Regions from separate parts of the Homo sapiens genome. Here region 1 is reported to be linked to region 2. The links are microRNA targets in miRTarBase. Many come from high-throughput screens and were not tested one by one. Region 2 holds a microRNA gene; the other region holds the end of a gene's coding sequence.

Region 1 (3,413 bases), not on the chromosome of region 2:
TGGTGAAACAGTCGCAGAAGCCACCGAGAGAGAAGGCTGGTAGGAAACACCGACAGGTGCTGTCGCCAGGAAGTCTGTATGGGGAACGATTAGTGGGCGGCAGACGGAGGACGTGGAGAGGCCGGAGGAGACTGTCGGGCAGTGCTCAGGCAGGTCAGAGAGAGCCAAGTGGAACTTTGAAACCACGGCTATTAAATAAAGCATTAATAAACATATAATGATGGCTTTCTTTTCTGTCTTTTAGTGCTGTGTTTACCTGGACAAATTTGTTGGTGGTTGTGGTTGAGCTGGATGGGTCGGAACAAGAAGCCTTGGACCTGGTTCCCTTGGTGACCAACGTGGTCCTGGAGGAGCACTACCTGATCGTCGGAGTGGTGGTCGTGGTGGACATCGGCGTCATCCCCATCAACTCCCGTGGGGAGAAGCAGCGCATGCACCTGCGAGACGGGTTTTTGGCAGACCAGCTAGACCCCATCTATGTGGCCTACAACATGTAGTCTCGTCTCTTGGCTTCCATGGACTTTTCTAGAGATGTAGACATTGTTCTCCGTGTCCACTGAAGCGTGCAGACACAGGGCAACACTCACCAGAATACAGCCATTTGTGGTGAGAGTGGAGGAGGAAGAGGAGGAGGAAGAGGACTTCTCACAGCAGCCACGATTGGCATGGGGGTGAAATGTGAATTTACCACTGAATTTCGCTCAGAAGGACTTTGGATTACTGCCTTCAGTTTGTTGGAAAAGCCCATTTCAAAACTTTCTTTTCTTTTCTTTCTTTTTTAATTATTGGATAATAAGTGCTTTCTTCGTAAATGTGGTATTTTGTTAAGCCGAAATAGCAATTAAAAAAATATCCTGCCCTCCAGATGGGTTCTTTTAAACAATTTATGTAGTGTGACAAAGAATTGTTTTCTCTGTTTTAATGTGTCATGAAATCTTAATGACATGGATCTGTTACTAATTTAAGCCATTGCTAGATCTCATCCTTTTAGGAAAGTTTGAGGTACGAGAAAACCTTCCAAATAGCACCTTCCAATTAGATAATAGCAGCTTTCTTTGTCAGAAATGTGCTGAAGAAACAAAGGCTGGTATACGGCCTTCGAAGTTAGTATAGAATGAGAAGAAATTATAAATAAGGTGTATTTCGGCAATTATCTTGCAAATATCTTTGTACTAAACTAAAAAGATAAAATAAGTTAACTTCCTCAATATGTAATTATGTACAAAACGTTTAATTTATTTTGATCTCTTTAGAACTATAAAAGAGAAAAACATTCAAGAATATTAAAGTCTTGTAATGTTTGCTAATATAAAAAAGTGTTGTATTATCTTGCGTGGATAGTATCACAACAAATATATATATATGAAATATAAATTCACTAATGAACAAAGGAGATTTTAAAGTTTAAGATGCAGAACTTGTCACTTGCATGGTGTGCCCCCCGTACTCACATACACTCTGCTGTTGCCAGCAGTCGCAGACCGCAGGAGCCCTGTCTAAAAGTTTCTTCTAGAACCAGAGACCAGCAAGTGAAATTATTGCCATCTCAAGGATGGCAAAAGAATTCAAAGCTCAATGTGCACTATTTTTTTCTTTGCTGTGGGACAACAGTGAATGTGTTTATGCCAGCGTGTGCTGATGATACTGAGGGGCTTTAGGTTGGCAAATAGCACTGTTTTCTTAGCTGCAAGAATTCATTGCACAATGTTTTTCATCATTTTTGTTAATGTCATCTTTTTTTGGTCCTTGCTACGAAAAGGAATGCGATTCTGTGGTCATTCGCACTGGGTTGCATTGATTCCCCCTCTGATGGCCAATGTGGAGTGGACAAAGTGTCCGGAACTCACATCGGTGATCGTCCCCTCGTCTTAAGACCCAGCCCGCTCTGTGTGAGCCTCTGGGGCTCCCTCGCTCAGTGAGCACAGTTCCCCGGGGGTTCATGCCAGAGCTCCGGCTGAAGCAAGAAGTCCTCCAGCTGCGTCGTTTGCCGCCTGTGGACGAGTGCGCCCCAGTTTCTGCCCTGGCAGCTCCTGGCCACACCTTCTCAGAGCTCACCTGTGCACTTCTAAATTGAATTGGCCCACGGTGTCCAACCAAGAAGGAGCATCTGCACTCCGAGAAAGATGTGTTCTGTAACTGCCCCAGTGTGACCCCGCAGTGGCTCTCGGTGCTAGATATGCATGACTAAGATTGATGCTGGGCAAAATGTAGATGATCTTTCATTATGTTGTGGGCAGCGTCTTTCTCTGCCTTTGCTATATGCAGTCAGCAGTAAGCCTTTTGCTAAAAGAGTTTTGTTTGACTTCTGAGATCCAAGGCTGATTGTTGTTAAAAAAAAAAAAAAAAAAAAAGTGGCACATTTAAAAAAATGTGTCTGCATATGTGGTGCATCCTTCCATCTCCACAAACCATTTGATTCTTGAAATATTGTTTGACCTCATTGCTGTGTGTGAATATTTCTCCACATGCTTCAGATGCACATTCCTAGTCTCTGCTTCCTAAGGGGGGAACCACCACACATTGGGGGGAAAAAAGACATTTTCCTACACCCACCCACCTTGTTGAAAGGGAGGTAGGTTTGGGGCTTCAGGCCAGGCACTGACTATGAAACATTAGCTGCAGTGTGCAGGACAGCTTTGAGGTCCAGCTGAAGTCAGGAAGCAAAACAAATGTAGATGTCACTTCAAACATAATTTCAACTGTCACCAGATCAACTCTACATTCAAGGAGTGTGGACGCTGCAGTGCAGTTGTGAGGGCAGTTAGCAGCCGCCTCTTCTGCATCCTGTCAACTCTGATTAGTTAGAGTTTAGGCTCAAAAGAGTTGGTGGACTGAGATTGAAATTTGGTTGTGCAAGAGAAAGGAAAGGAGACACTTAGTACCACCAGTTTCAGCAATAAAGAAGGGTCATTCTGTATTCAAAATTGTACTGTAGATAAATCATTCATGAGATTGTAAAAAATGTTTGTCTTGTGACCTTGTGCTTTTGAAGTCAGACAAAACCGTGTAATCAACTTGCACAAAAAGAGGGTACACAGTGAACATATAAACACAGACCTAATCAAACAGGAGCAGATTCCTCATGGTGCTTGTTTATTATATATATTTAATCCTGCTTGACACTTTACCCAAGGGAGATGGTCCCTTTTATCAGTTGAATGTTAGCAGCGTTATTTCAGAGTGTGGTGACTGGTTAGAGAAACTCATGTACTCAACCAGCCACAGTTTCAAACAAAATTTTTATGTGCAAAGGACAGCAACCTTCTTGTATGTTAAACCACCAGTACGCTTTGTACATCTGTGATAACGCCTGTTTTATATTCAAATGAACAAATAAAAGCTTTTATTTTTGTTGCTCTGAAAATAGCAGTTTCTTAATTGGTCCCCTGGAAAGATGTCTGGGACAGCTTTAA
Region 2 (3,413 bases):
TGGTTATTCAGTTCTCTCAAAGAGGGTGAATGCATGGGATATAAAAAAAAAATACTATTTTTTTCTTCAAGGTGGTGGAATTTCCTGTACATCTGTAGTGCTTTATACAGATGAACCTTTTACATCTGGAACCCTCGAGACTGGGGGAGTTTTTCTGGTTAGGTGGAGGGAGGTTCTGGGCTTCCACAAATGAATTAGGTGCTGGCTCTCGAGTTTATTTCCTTTCACTTAACATTTACCTTCTTGGCCTGGTATAAGGGTAGATTAGCGGTGATCGTAAAACAAAACATACTGGCACAACTGCAGCATATGTTAACACTGCTGCAGCTTAATGATGAATGAGTGCTCAGCACTGCAGATATGGGCACAGGATGCCCTATGCCCACACATTGGCAGACAGCCCCTCAATTATTGCAGTGTATGGACGGATTACTGGGTCGGCTGACTTCTTGATAATAGAAGATGTGATTTATAAATGATAATGGACCGTGGATTTCCAGATTTAGAAGGTTAACCTGTATTTGTGAAGTAGAAATCATTGATTTCTTGTGCCATATGTATTTAATGGAATATGGGAGGATTGGTGATGTTGATGATATTGCTGTTCAAGCAGATATCATCATTTGTTTTTTAGACGTCTCTATTATATGTTGTCATAAAGTATTAATGTGGCAATGTTTTCCTAGTCCCTTTCTCTTTACCAAGGTATTCTTGGAAAAATCAGAAGTGTTCTTGAAAATGATCTTGCAGTTAGCACAGCATCAGGTAAACAGTAGATGTTCAATTAATACTTGTTTAATTGTTTTGAGCTGAATTGGTAACACAGTCTGAGTCAGTAATAACAGATGAAGAATGATCAGTTTAGGAAGCAGCCACCAAGAAGCTTATGCATTTCAGACTGGGCTACAAAATTAGCCAGGAGTGGTAGCACAGGCCTGTAATCCCAGCTACTTGAGAGGCTGAGGCGGGAGAATCACTTGAACCTGGGAGGCAGAGGTTGCACTGAGCCGAGATCGTGCCATTGCACTCCAGCCTGGGCAACAAGAGCAAAACTCCATCTCAAATAATAATAATCCTGTATGCTTACTATAAATACAGATTCCTGGGCCTTGAACTTACTGAATCCAAGTCTTGGGTGACAGACTCCAAGAAACTGTTTTTAACAAGCATTCCAAGTGGTTCTTAGGTTCACTAAAATTTGAGAACAGCAATATATAATATAGTAAACACGGAAATATTTATTTTCTGGGCACACTCTCTGTTCACCTTTTTGAACTTCAGTTTCTTCATCGATAGAATGGGAATAATAATACCTATTTCACAAGACTGTTGAAAAAAACGTTTGGTAGACTATTCAACACTATACCAATTGTGACAGAGGTCCTCAAAACCGGCCTAGGTTTGTTGATTCACTGGCAGAACTCAGTACATAGAAACGCTTGCGGATGTGATTTATTATAGCAAAAGGATACAGAGCAAAGTCAGTAACGGGAAAAGGCTCATTGGGGCCAAGTCTGGAGGAAACCATGTGCAAGCTTCCAGTCCTCTTTCACTGAAATCACACAGGTCATGCTTAATTCCTCTAGCAAATGAGTTTTGACAACTTGTGTGAAATGTCTACTAGGGAAGCTTATTAGAGATTCAGTACCCAGGGTTTTTAGTGGGAGCTGGTCACACAGGCACCCTCCACCTGGTACACAGCAAAATTCCAGACCCCAAGGAGGAAAGCAGGTATTCAGTGTAAACCCTATTGTTTACACAGCTTAAGCAGAGTGAGCCACTCTTATCAGGGTGATGGAAACCCTCCCAAAATCCAAGTCCCCAGACACCAGCCAAGGACCAACCTTGCAAACAGGCCTTACTAAGAATAGCAGTGTCAGGCCTGCTATGTTAACTCTTTCCATCACGCAAATATTGTGAAACACTGGTATTTTTTCAGTGAAAGGAAATGACTTGTCCAAGATCATTAAGCTAATCAGCAGTACAGCTGAGACAGACTCCCAGCAATCACATCTTTTCTTTGCTGCCCATAGCCATGCTTCTAGATTATGGGTCATTCCTTTTCATACTGTCATTGAAAGCACTTACTGTTTGTCACTTGAAGCAGAAGAGCAGCCTGCCGGTGGTAAATTGATGCACCCAGTGGGGGAGCCAGGAAGTATTGATGTTTCTGCCAGTTTAGCGTCAACACTTGCTGGTTTCCTCTCTGGAGCATCGCCAAGTTCGTGGATTTTCATTTTTCCTGACTTTTGGACTTTTGTTACTGCTCCCATTCATTTGCTCATAGTCCTAATACTCATTTGCATCATCACTTCATCCCATTCTATACCTTTTGGGTAACACAATTTCCAAATGGTGGGAATACTGCAGTATTTTGTCAAAGAAGACTATATAGGAAAAAAAAAATTCTGAGCAATGAATTTTATGGCAATATTTACAAATATTGGTTTATATCCTGGATTGTCTTTTGAGTTTTATAGTCATGGAAAACCCTAGGGATATCTCTGGTTATTTGGAGTTTCAGCCATTTTTACTGTTATAAAGGAAAATTAACAAATTTGTTATGATTGGAGCAAGGAATAAGGAAATCATACTGGATGGTGCAGTAATCCCACATATCGACAGGGAGTAGAAGCCAGGAGGGAATTGCCACAAGTAAGTAACAGCTGGGTAGAGCAGATTATGTAAGCTACACCTGTTGTGTAAGCAGTGGGGACGTTCTTTAAGCTTCACAATTAATGTATTTTGCAGTAATAAGGATTAAGGGATCTATAGTATAGTGTACAATTTATTCTGGCTTCTTTTCTGAAAACATTCATGTGAATCACAGCTTTCTTGGAACACTCATCCCCTATTTGGTGCTGTAGAGGTGTGTAAGGTACAGCCCTGCTCACCAGTAGCCTGCAGTTTGGTAGAAGAGAGAGAAGACCAGCACACAGGACCATCCTCCACACAAGGCCAGTAGGTCACCAGAGCCATCCTTTTGAAGGACATACACAGTAAGTGCAGTAGGCATTCAGAAGGAGGCACTGGCTCTCTGGCTTCATTTCTTGGGGAGAGCTTTATGGAGGAAGTAGCCTGTCAACTGGGCCTCTGGGGACCCAAAGGGCTGAAGGTTCTGAGATTTTAGGGATGGGCAGTCTCATTACAGGAGGAGGCAATTACCTGAGCAATGGTGCAGGGTCATTGTTGTACTTAAAGCATGGGAACCAGTCAATTTAGAGAACATACATGCCAACCCCAAATGAGTTTGAGCTGTTATAAAAAAAAGTATAACAGGTGGGGCTCAGTGGCTCACGCCTGTAATCCCAGCACTTTGGGAGGCTGAGGCAGGTGGATCATTTGAGGTCAGGAGTTCAAAACCAGGCTGGCCAACATGGTGAAACCCCATCTCTACTAAAAACAAAAATTAG

What was found. The annotated mature microRNA hsa-miR-505-3p reads CGUCAACACUUGCUGGUUUCCU and lies in region 2 at 2,183-2,204, shown strand. An mRNA with a match to its seed (bases 2 to 7 or 8) in the 3' UTR can be bound and repressed. Matches are read on the target gene's strand: a 7mer-m8 pairs with bases 2 to 8, a 7mer-A1 pairs with bases 2 to 7 and ends in A, and an 8mer does both.
Region 1: the mRNA of DIP2C is a reported target of hsa-miR-505-3p. The part of its 3' UTR that is shown has no 7-base or 8-base seed match.

Annotation. Positions count from the first base shown.
Region 1 is chr10:274,409-277,821 of GRCh38, reverse strand. DIP2C (disco interacting protein 2 homolog C) reads left to right here. Exons shown (of 37, transcript NM_014974.3): 37 at 245-3,413. The coding sequence ends at 497. Among named protein-coding and RNA genes, the nearest start is that of ZMYND11, 140 kb to the right of the region's middle.
Region 2 is chrX:139,922,951-139,926,363 of GRCh38, reverse strand. MIR505 (microRNA 505) reads left to right here and starts at 2,133; the gene lies at 2,133-2,216. All of the region lies in intron 1 of ATP11C (ATPase phospholipid transporting 11C (ATP11C blood group)), which reads left to right.